4 linked regions of the Homo sapiens genome follow. The protein of the gene in region 2 purifies or fractionates together with the protein of the main gene of each other region. This does not show direct contact. Each region holds a gene or a part of one and is shown on either strand. Other genes may lie near its edges.

Region 1 (3,500 bases), on a different chromosome or scaffold from region 2:
TCAGATGCCGTGGAGCTCCATGGGTATGTCAAAGGTGGCACATATCCAGCTCAAAGATCTGCATCTTTTTAGAAAACATTTAAAAACACAGAACTCAATGGAATTCAAATATAAAAACAAATAAATTTAAACAGAAATAAGCCCAAATCTGCTTACATTTTTGCTTCTTCTCTTGTTGCATATGTGACGTTGACAACGGCGGTTTCTGTGTCTGTGTTGACTAGGGAAAAGGCAAAAACTACACTGTCATAGGAAAAAGTGCTGTCACCCTCTGGCTTAATGTAAACAGACAAACTTTAGAGAAAAATGCATAAAACCCTCATCACACTGGCTCCACAGTTATCTGCATCTCTACGTTTATTCATCTGAGTTCACAGTAATTTGTAATCAATTGTATATAACACGTTTGTAATCAATCGTATGAACAACTCAGAACTATATTTTCCACATATTTTATAAACACTTTTATATGAGTATTTTGTATCAGTACATTTTCTTTGTATTTTTCATTTTTAATGTCTATATAAAATTGCAGTGAGTCAAATGTACCATGACTTGCCTAACCATTCCCCAATTGTTGGTAAGTAGGCTGTTCCCACTATTTGCTAGTCTAAATAGTGTTGCTAAAAATCACCTTTGTTGCAAACATCACTGGATTGTGTGTTCTTCTGAATTACTTCTTTAGGCTAAAATCACAGAAGAAAAGTAATGCAGTAAAAGAACATGATGCTTTTTAATGCATATTTTCAGACTGGTCTCCTAGAAGTTTGTATCAATTTATTACATCACTATCAAGGTATGAGTTTTAATTATAATTTGCATTAATTCTTAAATAATTGGATATACATATAAAACAATAAGAAAATATTTTAATTTAAATTATTCATTCACTGACAAGGTTGAACCATCACTATTTTTGTTTCCCTTTGACTGAACTCTTTGACTGTGTGGGTTAAATCTAATAAATAAAACTGACAATTCTAATTACTTGGCTAAAAGAGAAAGTATAAACTCTATGATTGGCTAATAAGGGATTACTCTTGTGAGTTGTCTTGTCTTAGATCATAATTTCTTGCCTCTTCTTCTATAGTTAGAAATTAAAAATAAATTCAAATGCCAGAGAAAACTTTCTCAATCCAAGCCAGTAAACTTAAACACCAAAAATATATGTTTCCCAAAACAAAGGTGACTAGATCAATTCTTCCCTTTAAAAGATTTAAGCTGTTGGGAGTTTGGAGTTAACAACAACATTAAGTTAAAGATAATTCAAGAAAATTATGATAAACCTGCTGTCCAAAGTAATAATAAAACTCTATAATATACGATTCTTTACACTGGACCCATGCTTGAGCTTCAAGAATTCTATAAACCCCTCCAAAATGATTCAAACTTGTAGAAATGTGAATTTTTCTTGTTATTTTACAAGATTTGCAAAGGGACCTGAGACCCCGAAAAGCTTAAGGACTACTGTTAAAAATACTGTTTGTTAAATAACTTTAAAGCAGCTGCAGCCTTTATGGGTTGCAGGGAGTTGTATGTAATGCTCAGAAAGAGCTGCCACTGAGAATTACATGTAATAAACCCGAGCCCAGCTCTGGCCTTGGCCTGGAGTGTTCATAGCACGCTTTAATTCACACTTAACCCACAGAAGTCCTCACAGTGCAAAACAGGGGAGGTGTAGCACATTACTGTCCTCTCTCAGTGCTGACACAGAGAATGCTAAAAAGGTTTCATATTTGCTGCTTTCTAGTGCTACAGATAAGGCTGTAGACTCCCAGAAAGGGCTGGGTTTGAACCTCCTGAATAAAGCTATCCATTAGGATTCTCAGATTCTGTGCTCACTTCTTAGTCATATGCTCTGTTCTTCAAAGATGTTAGTCTTCAGGAAATCAGGCAGTTCTTTGATTCTGTGACGAGCTAAGCTCCATTCAAATAATTTATTTCACTGGGCATGAAAGTTCTATAAAGTTGCCTAAAACTCTACTGAAAATATTTTCCTGCTGAATCAGGAATCACTCATGTAACAGGACAAAACAATAGCCCAACAGTTCTATCCTGTTGTTGTTAGGCAGCTGGAAACTGGGGGGTCTCCAGCACACAGCTGCCCTAGGACCTATAAACTGCCCCAGGGACCTGGAATATATTTTTCTTGCGTAGCATTGTCCTCAGTTTATAATATAATCTTAACTAGTAACTTTTACAGGTTCATGTCTGCAAGACCATCTTGCCTACAACACCCAATCATTAGAATGTCTTCTTTTCTGCCGGGCACGGTGGCTCACACCTGTGATCCCAGCACTCTGGGAGGCCAAGGTGGGTGGATCACTTGAGGCCGGGAGTTTGATGCCAGCCTGGCCAACACGGTGAAACCCTGTCTCTACTAAAACTACAAAAATTAGCCAGGCATGGTGGCGCTCACCTATAATCCCAGCTACTAGGGAGGCTGAGGCACAAGAATTGCTTGAACCCGGGAGGTGGAGGTTGCAGGGAGTAGAGATCATGCTCCTGCACTCCAGCCTGGGCGACAGAGTGAGACTCCGCCTCAAAAAAAAAAGCAGGGGGAGTCTTCTTTCCATGTCGAAGGAAATAAGAACTAAGAAATAGAATCCTTATAAATCATGTCTTCTTTCTGAGCTCTTTCCCTTCACCTTTGGGCATGGGCAGGCAGCAGCATAAACTGAATAATATCTGAATAATTACTGCTTTAAAACTATTAATTAAACTAGCAGAATAGATCATATACAAGAAAATGGGTTGTTTGCAATTTTTCCTAAGTGAACTTGAACAATCCCTTCAGCTTACGTATGACTCTGCTGTCTACAAATGCCTTATACAGGTTCTCTTTGGGTAACACAACTATCCAGTGACAGAGGAAGGGTAGAAATTTCTCTCTCAATTTGACACTTGTGCATACTGAGTCAGTGAGGTTATTTGACTTTTTCAAGGGTTCGCAGTCAGTAAATGACTGAATTTACATTCTGTTTTCTAGGTCAAGGCAAAAATAATCTTTATCATGTATTATTGCCTGTCACATCAGGAGTTTGGAATCTACTTTTCTGGGACTCTTAAAGAGCTAGATAAGATATCAGCTTTAGGTACCACTGTTTTCCTTTTAAAAATCATAGTATTTCATGCTTTAGAAGATAAAAAAGAGGTTGGCAGGAAGAAAAGTATCTTCTGGGCATTTGCAGCACTGCTCCTGAGACAGGTGTTCTCAAACTTGAGTGTACACAAAAATCACTTCAGGGTTTTTGTTTGTTTGTTTTGAGACAAAGTCTCACTCTGTCACCCAGGCTGGAGTTCAGTGGTGTAATCTCGGTTCACTGCAACCACCTCCCAGGCTCAAGCGATTCTCGTGCCTCAGCCTTCCAAGTAGCTGGGATTACAGGCATGCGTCACCATACCTGGCTAATTTTGTATTTTTAGTAGAGATGGGGTTTTGCCATGTTGGCCAGGCTGGTCTTGAACTCCTGGCCTCATGTGATCTGCCCACCTGGGCG
Region 2 (3,500 bases):
TTTTATGTGAATGATCTCATTAATCCTCACAAAAACCTTCTAAATTAGATAATATTATTCAAATTTTATAGAAGCAGAAATTGGCACACAAAGAGGTTATATTACTTGCCAAAGGTCAATTAATGAGCAGAAGCAGAGCCATAATTGCAACCCAAGTAGGCATACTCTGAGCCTATATCTATGTCTGTAAAGAAGACACCAGATGACCCTAAAAGAAAAACACAAAGCTCAGCTATCCTTCCATTTGCTTACCTTGAAGACCTGCATATTTAAGGGCTGACCAGTTTGGTATGTCATAGCACCCTCCACCATCTTCCTTTTCTTCTGATTCACATCGGTAAAGGATCTGATTTAGCTCAGCCAAAGTTAATCTGGAGGCAAGACTAAGAATTGGAAAATAAAGATAACCATATATTGAAGTTTCGCTTGTTGTCAATAGAAACAAAAGAAGAAAATCTGAATTACAATCATAAAATGTCTTAGCAGTGTATGTTTTAGGAACTCAGCATTCAAATAAACATTATACTCATACATTTTAAGTAATTATTAAAGGACAAATTGTGAAAAAAAATTCAATTAGAAGCGACATTACTCCCAAACCAAGCAAATAATCAAGTACCAAATTGTATTGATTAGAAGTATGCTGGGAAAATATTTTGGCTTCTATATCCTTTATCTTATAAATCTGTTTTTTTAACCTTTCTAGTTTGGACTTAGTGTTTTCCTTCCTTCCTTCATTTATTTATGTGTTCTCATCTGATTTCTCTCCTTTATATTCCCCTAAGTGAGACATCAAGAACTTTTTATGCTAGTTATTGTATACTAAAAATACTTATCAGAGGATGACTAAAGGAATAAAAAGTCAAAGTTAATTGCCTAGGAAATCACATGCTCTCTACCTTCATATTTCTCTCCAAGTCCCTTCCTTTCTCTTCTCTAAGGTTGCACTGCCCCTCAGCTTGTTTATTCAAGAAACCAGGATTTTTCTCAGATTAAGATGCCTCCTGATAACTGTCAGAGGGAAGACTATCATGGCCTTGATTTCCCTTTGTTTGGTTAGCAGTAAGACTGTATAACTGACCACACCTGAATACAGCTGAAACTGTATTTTCTTGTGCTTCTATAATAGATGCTCAGGTAATTTCATTTTACATGACTGCTATTTTATGTGAACACATATCCTCTTGAATGTGTATCTTTCTTTCCCATTTAGTTCTGGCTCAATTTAGAAAATCATTGTCATCTGTGCTTTGTTCTCTCCATATCAGCCTCCCTCCCCAGAGCTAGTTTGTGAGTCAAGCCTGAGTCAAATCACTCAGAAGTCTCAGTATCAACTCCATTCTAGGACAATATTTTTCAATAGCCAGTGGACTCCTTGCCTAAAAATTACCTGGGGATCTTATAAAACTGCAAATTTCTTGGCCTTGCTCCAAAATAATCTGAGCAGGTCTGAGGAGGAACATGCATTTTACAAGCAGTCCATCCAAACACAAAGCTGCTTCATCACAGATTTTTTGGTTAAGAATGCAACTACTTTATTAAGAATAGTTTGAATTAGGAGTTAATATCCTTAACAATAAAAAGTCTTACAAAACAACAAAGAAAGCCGAACACAATAGCAAAATGGGGTAATACATAAAACAACACTTCAACAAATAAATACAAATGGCCAATGAACAAAATAATTTAGCTTAATATTTAAATTACATGAGATGTTATTTTTAACTATTTTATATTTACCAGTTTGATTAGTAACAGCTAACACTTATCAATCACTATGTGTCAAAAACTATTGTGTTTTACTCAAGTAATCTGTAAGAAAGGTGCTATAATTATGTCTATTATAAATTCTCAAAGATCTCTTTTTTTTTTTCTAGAGACAGGGTCTTGCTCTGTTGCCCAGGCTGGAGAGCAGTGGCACAATCATGGCTCATTGCAGCCTAGACCTCCTGGGCTCAACTGATGCTGATGCTGTTACCTCAGCTTCCTGAACAGCTGTGACCACAGGTGCATGCCACAACTTCCAGCTAATTTTTTTAAAACGTTTTGTAGAGATAGGGTCTCACTATGTTGCCCAGGCTGGTCTTGGACTCCTGGGCTCAAGCAATCCTCCCACCTTGGCCTACCAAAGTGCTGAGATTATAGGAGTGAGCCACTGCACTCAGCCAGGTCTTACTTCTTATAGCTAATAAGAGTCTGCAATGGAATTCAAATCCAGTTAGTCTGGTTCTATACTCCATGCCCTTAAACACTACGTTATAATAATATATACTCAGTATTGCTAATGATGGAAACTCTTGGATAGAGCTGAAAGTATTAATTATTATAATCTTTCTGGAGAAAATTTGGCAGTATGTATTAACAGCCTCAAATATATGGATATAGTCTAACCCAATGGTCCTTTTTGGCACCAGGGACTGGTTTCACAGAAGACATTTTTTCACAGACTGGGGGTGAGGGGCGTGGTTTTGGGATGATTCAAGTGCATTACATTTATTGTGTACTTTATTTCTACTATTATTACATTGTAATATATACTGAAATAATTATACAACTCACCATAATGTGGAATCAGTGGGACCCCTAAGCTTGTTTTCCTGCAACTAGACAGTCCCATATGGGGGTGATGGCAAACAGTGGCAGATCATCAGGCATTAGATTCTCATAGGCAGCATGCAATCTAAATCCCTCGCAGGGACAGTTCACAATAGGGTTCACGTCCCTATGAGAATCTAATGCAGCCACTGATCTGACAGGAGGCAGAGTTCAGGTGGTAATGCGAGTGATGGGGTGCAGCTGTAAATACAGATAAAGCTCACCTGCCACTCACCTCCTGCTGTGCGGCCTGGTTCCTAACAGGCCATGGACCAGTACCAGTCTGTGGCCCAGAGGTTGGGGACCCCTCGTCTAACCCAAAACTTCCATTTCTGAAAATATTTATACTAGTACTAATGATGGCAAACTATGAGCATTTACTATGTGCCAGGCATTGTATTAAGTGTTTTATAAGTGTTATCCTATTTAATTCTTACAAAATTTTCCAGATGGGAGACTGAGATGATGAAAGTTCTAAACAATAGATCCAAGATCATACTGACAGTAATGAAGCTAAAGTTAAACCTAGGTCTAAACCTCAAAACCTATATTCTTCTGTAGTATGCAGAAACATCTAGAAAGGGAATAACTAAGGATTCATGTAAAGATGAATGTACAAAGACATAAATAATAGGGAACAATTAGAAGCAATCTAGATGTCCAAAAATGGAAATTGTTTAAATAAATTATGGTAAAGCCATAAAGTAGAATAATATGTTGACATTTTTAAAAAATGATGTGGTAAAGGGTATGAGGTATGCAACTTAGTCTCAAATACTTCAGAGAAATTGTGTGTGTGTGTATACAGAGATGCATGCATGTGTTATGTATGCATGTAGGCATGTGTGTATCTATATCTATAGAGAGAATACACATGCAGGTACACACACAAATTATAAAACAAT
Region 3 (3,500 bases), on a different chromosome or scaffold from region 2:
CCCACAGGGCCTCCCTGCCTCTGGAGCTGGGCCCCGGCCATTTCCAACAGGCCCAAGCTCCCCCACCCACCTCTCCACCCCGCCGTCTCTGTCTTATTCTGACCCCAGAAGAACGGGCTCCTTCATTTCCCTACTTCCTCTACAGCACCTGCTGAGAAACTCTGAGGATGGAAAATCCATCAGGACGCTTTCGGTGTCAGTGCCAAAACCCCAAATGATGCAGGAGGGAAAGAGAACCTACGAGAAGCCGGCGCAGAGCGACTCACAGAACTGGGTGGACGATCAGCTCCGGGCTGTAGGCCTTAATCACAGGTGCGGCCGCACTGGCACAGAACACGTGGGACAAGTCTGCGCCCTGATGAAGGAGCACAAGAGGCCGACTCAGGGATCGCTCCGGCATCGCTGCCCACCCGCCAGACACAGGCGTCCAGCGCTCATTACTCAGCCCTGGTGACGTGCATGAGAAACGTACTAGCTCGGATTACACCCAGCCAGGTGGCTTAGCAAAGGGCCAGGGCGCAGAGCACAATACCTAAAAAGAAAGACTTTTGCCGCCACTGCAGAGGCAGGGTCAGAGCCACACACACCAGCACGGCCCAGCTCGGTCTGGTCACCCTCCAGGAGGAAGGGTCACAGGAAGAGGCCGGCCGTTAGCACTTGCTCAGCTCATGGGAAACTGCAGGATCAGCGGCTTCAGCTGCGACCTACAAAGGCATCCCAGGTGCACTTTGGTGGAGTACAATACAAATCACGCTTTAGGTTTTAAAAATGGGCTTCAATTGAGGCCAGGTGCAGTGGCTCACGCCTGTAATCCCAGCACTTCGGGAGGCCGAGGCGCATGGATCACGTGAGGTCAGGAGTTCGAGACCAGCCTGACCAACAGAGAGAAAACCTGACTCTACTAAAAATACAAACAAAATTAGCCAGGCGTGGTGGCAGGTGCCTGTAATCCCAGCTACTCGGGAGGCTGAGGCAGGAGAATCGCTTGAACCCAGGCGGCGGAGGTTGCTGTGAGCCGAGATCCCGCCATTGCACTCCAGCCTGGGCAAAAAGAGCGAAACTCTGTCTCAAAAAAAAATGAGCTTCAACTGAAGTGATCTTGTTTATGCACAGATGTCAGGATAGACTTAACGGTGTTTCTATTAGCTATGATTACCCTAAGATATTATTTAGATTTCTATCAGAAAACATTTGCTTTAATCATATTTAAATAATCAAACTCTCTACCAGAAAAATCCCAATAAAGAAATTTTAAGTAAACATACCACTTTGAGAGCTGAGATTGCTGCAAAATATGGGGCTCCAGTGTACCTAAAAAGAAGGTATTTAGAGTCAAAAACTTCTGAGAATAAGGTAAGCATACCTTGATCAATAAATAGGTTATCAATAAAAAATAGACATAAATAATATAGACATGGTTTATCAATAAATAACAGAGACATGAAGCACACAGCACAAACCCAACACCTAAAAGATGCTCAGCAAATGTTCAATGAACATGAACCAGGTTCGACTAGAAATGTCTTTTTTTTTTTTTTTTTTGAGACAGAGTTTCACTCTTGTTGCCCAGGCTGGAGTGCAATGGCACGATCTTGGCTCATTGCAACCTCCGCCTCCTGGGTTCAAGCGATTCTCCTGCCTCAGCCTCCTGAGTAGCTGGGATTACAGGCATGCGCCACCACACCCGGCTAATTTTGTAGTTTTAGTAGGGACAGGGTTTCTGCATGTTGGTCAGGCTGGTCTCAAACTCCCAACCTCAGGTGATCCGCCCGCCTCGGCCTCTCAAAATGCTAAGATGACGGGCATGAGCCACCGCGCCCAGCCAGAAATGTCGATCTTTTACATAAAACCTTCATGCATTTCAGGAGAGTGAATCTCTGGCAGTAATGCCTGCAGTCTCCCTGCAATGTGAATGTTCAAGGTAAGGAGCTGACCGCAGGCTTCTGCCTGGAGAGAAGAAAGTGACAACCACATGTTCGGAGCAGTCGGGCATGGACAGGGTCCCAGAGTGGGCAGACCCCGTCCTCCAAGAGTCACAGTCAGCAGAGGCCAGATGGGGGCCACCTGGGACAAACAAGAAACGGCACCCACCACCCAGCTGCTTCCGCCTGGCTGTTCTGGAATCCCTGGCTCTCCAGGTCTAAGGGCACTTCAGGCACAGAAAGGAAGAGCCCTGCCCTCCGTCAGATGGGCAAATGCAACCTTTATGTCCATTCCGAGCAGTGAAATGTTTTGCTAACCCAAGAAAGAGAGACCTGGGCAAATGCTGATACCCATCACCTTACATGGCCTTCTCCTGCAAAGCGGTGTCAATAGCGTTGTAAATGCAAAAGACAGTACAGAACAGGCAACATACATGCACACACTCTTCCATCATGTGAAAACAAGCCTCACTAATAAGAGAAATGCATTAAAACAACAAGAAAGCTTGTCGACTTCACTAGCAAAGGTTGTCCTCCAAGGGCTGCAGGGAACAGGTGCTCTTGGGAGGCAACACACACTAACGCAATGGGGGGACAATTCGGCAGCGTCACCAGCATGTAAAATGCACACATACCTGATCCAGTAACAACTCTAACACACCCTATGGCACGATCAACAGCTGCAAATGGAGGGATGGGCAAAGAGAGATACCACATCCATGCAAACAGAAAGCAAGCAGAAACAGAGGAGCCACGGCAGGCTTTCCGTCAGAGGCAGAAGGTATCCTTCACACCCAAGGACAACTTACAAACAGCTACGTACCAAACACAGCAGCAAAACAGAACAGAAGCAAGCTAGGGATTTGTCAAATTTCATAAATGACTTTCAGTAACATCTTTAAATTGACAAAGTAAACCAAGAGGTTGCTGAGTGTTTCTATCCTAAATACAAAAAACATGCTTGTGGTATGAAGTCCAGTTAAATACAGAAAAGCAGAAAGTGGAAAAAACAGGCTCATTTCCCCACTACGACAAAACTTAACACTGACACACATGAGGGAGTAATTCAGTCAGGGCTCCTCAGAGTTATTTCCTAGTTAATCAAAAAGTGGATCACTGAAAAATACTGAGTGTCCTATCAGGCTGCATTTGGAAATGATTACTGAGGTCAAACTAGACAGCGTGAATGACAGTCAGGTAAGCAGCCAGCCAGCAACTGACTTTTTAAACACCAACACTGCACATCAGCTACTTACTCCTGACAGCCTCCAACTACGCCTATTCTTCCATCTTGCCCTTTGTGCTTTGTGGAAGACAGAGGAGGTATGATATTTCTCACCAGCTGCAAAGTATTTTCCATATCCTTTATCGAATGTGCTTTACGTAGCGAAAACGCTCTTTCTAAAACTGAAAGACAAGAAAAATGAATAATTCAGAAAGGTAAACAGATATTGTTAGTACACATAATAGCCCATTAACCAAAACCCTCTCCAAAGTTATTACGAATGCTATAGATTTTTACCCAATGGATTTCTGTAAGCAAATATGATGTTCAAAATTACATTAACACATGCAATT
Region 4 (3,500 bases), on a different chromosome or scaffold from region 2:
GATTATGAGTAACACTGCCCAAAGAATGAACTTTCTTTACAACAATACTTCTATTGTTCAAATCTGATACTAATGAATTTATCAACAAGAAATTCTACTTGATTATCCCAATACTTTTAAATGTCAAGGGAATCCCATCTACACATTTCATATTTAAAATCAGTCCTATCTTTCCCTTTATGTATTCTATTATTTGAATTTTTACACTCATGTTACTTTCCAAATCAGAAAAATCAAAATATACTTAAAAGTAGGCAAAAGATTAATAAAATTAAAGGACTACTTGCCTTTTATCATGAAGTAATGTTTTAATTCCATTTCATGACAGCTCAAATCAATTACTGAGACTGTGCTCGGCCAGTATCCCTTCACCCCTGTCCTATTCCTTTTTTTTTTTTTTTTAATAAATCATAGAATCATAGCTCATAGAGTTGAAAAGAACTTCAGTACAGCCACCTGGAACTAGTTCTCTGACTATGAGCAGGCAAAATTAATATTCTGACTTTCCAAGCAAGACATTAAAACCCAGAGAAGCTGTGTCACTTCATAAGTGCTCCTGTTATCATATCATACTGTTCTTTGATGGACTGACCATGTGATCTTATTCTCAAAGACCTCCCAACAAGCCAAGTGCCGCAGAAAGATTTCCTTAGCAAAAATCAACTCTGAACGCTGGTCTATTTCTACCACAGAAATCCCAACTGTCTCATCAGTGAAAAGGTTTGAACTCTTACTACTGAACAAGAAGTAAAGCCACCTTCAGGATTAAAACAATGAAGGTCACCATGTACAGATCGCCCAAAGAGCTAATATATTAAGTAGTACAATAACACTGCAATACCTTTCTGATTTTAACTGAATCCTTTAGGTTTAGAAAAGAATAATCTTAGGTCAGAATAATCCAGACTGATGAATCCATGTAGATCTCAGGCTACCTTAGGGCCCTAGGATAAAAGACCCACAAGCAATCCAATCTTTCCAGGACTTGTATAGCTGGTAATATTATGCCAACTTCACAGTGAAAAGAACTGGAGCTCAAAGAACTTTTAATACTATGCCCAAGGCCACAATTATCTAGGAGAGTAGAAATTTGAGTTCAGGCTGGCATAACTCCAAGGCTACCAACTAGACTGGCTGTCCTAGATACAACCACTTAGTCTTATTCTAAGTAATACTACATTGACCCTTTTGGCAATTACAAGCCAATGGGTCAACTGTTTCATAAAATTTTTCCTTGTCAAATATTATAGATCCAAGTTATGAATATAAAAAGAGGTGATAGTTTTCCTGTTTGATATACCTACATTAAATTGTTCAGATAAAGAAGAAAGCAGGATAGAAGAAAATAGGGCTTTTGGATGTCACTAAGAGAGAGATTATCCAGTACTGGTCACGAGCCCACTTCTTTCTGCTTATCTTAGCAGCAGTATTTGGAAACAGAGGTTCTCAGGCTTGTTTCTGACTAGCCCTTGGGAGTTCTCTGGGAATATCACTAACATGCCAGGGTTCACTGGCAATATTGCTCATTGTAACAAATGCCATGCTTATACCAAAAGAGGGCCCTTTATAATATTTCAGTTGATTAAAACATTCTCAAAACCCTCCCCAGATGTAACTGATTTGATCTGGCTATATGAATGCAAATTTTTAAAAACAGTATAATTTTGTTTTCTGACATTTGTAATTGATTTTACTTATATGCCTTGTTCATAATAAAACCTCAATAAATGCTAAGTAAATAGATGGATGACTTAAAAAGTTAAAAGAAATGATATTGGAAAGACACTATTGGATGTTGGAAGTGATAATGAGATTGGGATACGCTCCAAGGTCCTCAGATGGTAGCCAACAAAATCAGTACTGATCAATGAGATCAATACTTCCCAACTTTGGGGATGGAGGTGAGGGAAAAGTGGGAGAAGCCTTAATCTTTGCTCAATCCTTCAGGAAAAATAAGGAGGTATGCGGTAGGAGCCTTGTACCCTCTGCCCCAAAGGTAACACATACCTTATAATGGAATTTGCAATAAACTGCCTCCCCATTTGCATTAACCAGCTTGAAAGTATGTGATCCATATCCATTCATGTGGCGATGTCCATCTGGAATCCCCCGATCACTGAACAAGAAAGAAACCTAAAGAACAGAAATATAAAGCCTAAAATGTTTTCATTTAAATCAAAACATCCTTGATTTTTAAGATATTCCTTAGTTTCCAGAAAGTCCCTTAATGACATAAAACATACTAGCCAATTTCCCATGGGAAGGGTTACCATTATTATTTCACTTGTAGAAAATAACAAACAGAAAAATTTTAAATCAAAATGATATGCAAATCACTAATACTATGACTCAAAATTCTATGAAGGAAAGCCAAAACAACCTGAAAACTGGCCTAATTTGTTATTCAAAATTTATTTGCATAGCAAATTTGTTTGGTACTACTTTCCCCCCACTTCCTTAATACAGAGCTTTACCTTACACTACAGACTTTCATCCTTACTACTGCTAAATATCAACTGACAATGTTGCTAGCTATCTATCATCATCATCATCATCATTTAAGGCCGATGAATGGGGGATGATTAGTAAAGCCAGTTACTACAAAACTCTTCACGATCAAGAAATCTGAGGAAGCTGATTCCAATAAAATAGCCAAAACTGGAGAGACACTTTATGAAGAGGCATAATTAAACACTGCATCCCAGGTGATATAATACAATGGCAAAAAAGGGTTCATACCTGATGCAGAGACTCAGGACGTAGGCTCCAGAAGTCCCAGACCATGTCCGGATCCTTCAGATGTGTCTGAGGATTTCTCTTTTGGCTGTGGATAAAAGATGGAAACTAAATAGAAAAAAGAGAGAAAAAAATCCAAAAACTAAGTTTACAGGAATTATGGTGTCTTTCATTATATATGCCTATTACTAGGTTTATGGATTATAATTCTAAATACAATCCTAGAATTTTAAACTGCCAAACCATAATATGAAATTTACTCAGCATAGACAACTAGCATCTAAGATACCCTAAAGTATTTCAAATATACTCAAAACTATAGTCTTTTCTTTTTTTTTTTTTTTAAGACAGGGTCTCACTCTGTCACCCAGGCTGATTGCAATGGCATGATCACAGCTCACTGCAGCTTTGACCTCCTGGGCTCAAGCAAATCTCCCACCTCAGCCTCCCAAGTAGCTGGGACTATAGGCATGAGCCACCACACTTGGCTAATTTTTGTATTTTTTTGCAGAGATATGGTTTTGCCATGTTGCCCAGGCTGGTCTCGAACTCATGGACTCCAGTGATCTGCCTGCCTTGGCCTCCCAAAGTGCTGGGATTTATAGTATTTCTTCACGGAAAAAATATACCCACCCTCCCGCATGCGCGCACGCACACACACCCCCTCCTGCTGACTCAGAGCATGTAGAGACACCCTCTGCTTGTTTCCAAAGTAAAGTCCCTCTTTTTACTAATCTTCGATGCTCTGCAAGGAAAACTAAACT

The links. Proteins that work in one complex are often made in the same cells at the same time.
Region 1: the proteins of AGL (region 2) and IGF2BP2 fractionate together in Homo sapiens (co-fractionation; one large-scale study listed by BioGRID). This does not show direct contact.
Region 3: the proteins of AGL (region 2) and NAXD fractionate together in Homo sapiens (co-fractionation; one large-scale study listed by BioGRID). This does not show direct contact.
Region 4: the proteins of AGL (region 2) and CAT fractionate together in Homo sapiens (co-fractionation; one large-scale study listed by BioGRID). This does not show direct contact.

The regions. Positions count from the first base shown.
Region 1 is NC_000003.12:185,692,543-185,696,042, forward strand, and holds part of IGF2BP2 (insulin-like growth factor 2 mRNA-binding protein 2), read right to left. Parts: intron 687-3,500; coding exon of another isoform or gene 635-686; intron 239-634; coding exon of another isoform or gene 221-238; coding exon 157-220; intron 1-156.
Region 2 is NC_000001.11:99,884,861-99,888,360, reverse strand, and holds part of AGL (glycogen debranching enzyme), read right to left. Parts: intron 384-3,500; coding exon 253-383; intron 1-252. UniProt on the Homo sapiens protein: Multifunctional enzyme acting as 1,4-alpha-D-glucan:1,4-alpha-D-glucan 4-alpha-D-glycosyltransferase and amylo-1,6-glucosidase in glycogen degradation.
Region 3 is NC_000013.11:110,622,045-110,625,544, reverse strand, and holds part of NAXD (ATP-dependent (S)-NAD(P)H-hydrate dehydratase), read right to left. Parts: intron 3,330-3,500; coding exon 3,179-3,329; intron 1,312-3,178; coding exon 1,266-1,311; intron 356-1,265; coding exon 267-355; intron 1-266. UniProt on the Homo sapiens protein: Catalyzes the dehydration of the S-form of NAD(P)HX at the expense of ATP, which is converted to ADP.
Region 4 is NC_000011.10:34,452,434-34,455,933, reverse strand, and holds part of CAT (catalase), read right to left. Parts: intron 2,845-3,500; coding exon 2,740-2,844; intron 2,134-2,739; coding exon 2,008-2,133; intron 1-2,007. UniProt on the Homo sapiens protein: Catalyzes the degradation of hydrogen peroxide (H(2)O(2)) generated by peroxisomal oxidases to water and oxygen, thereby protecting cells from the toxic effects of hydrogen peroxide.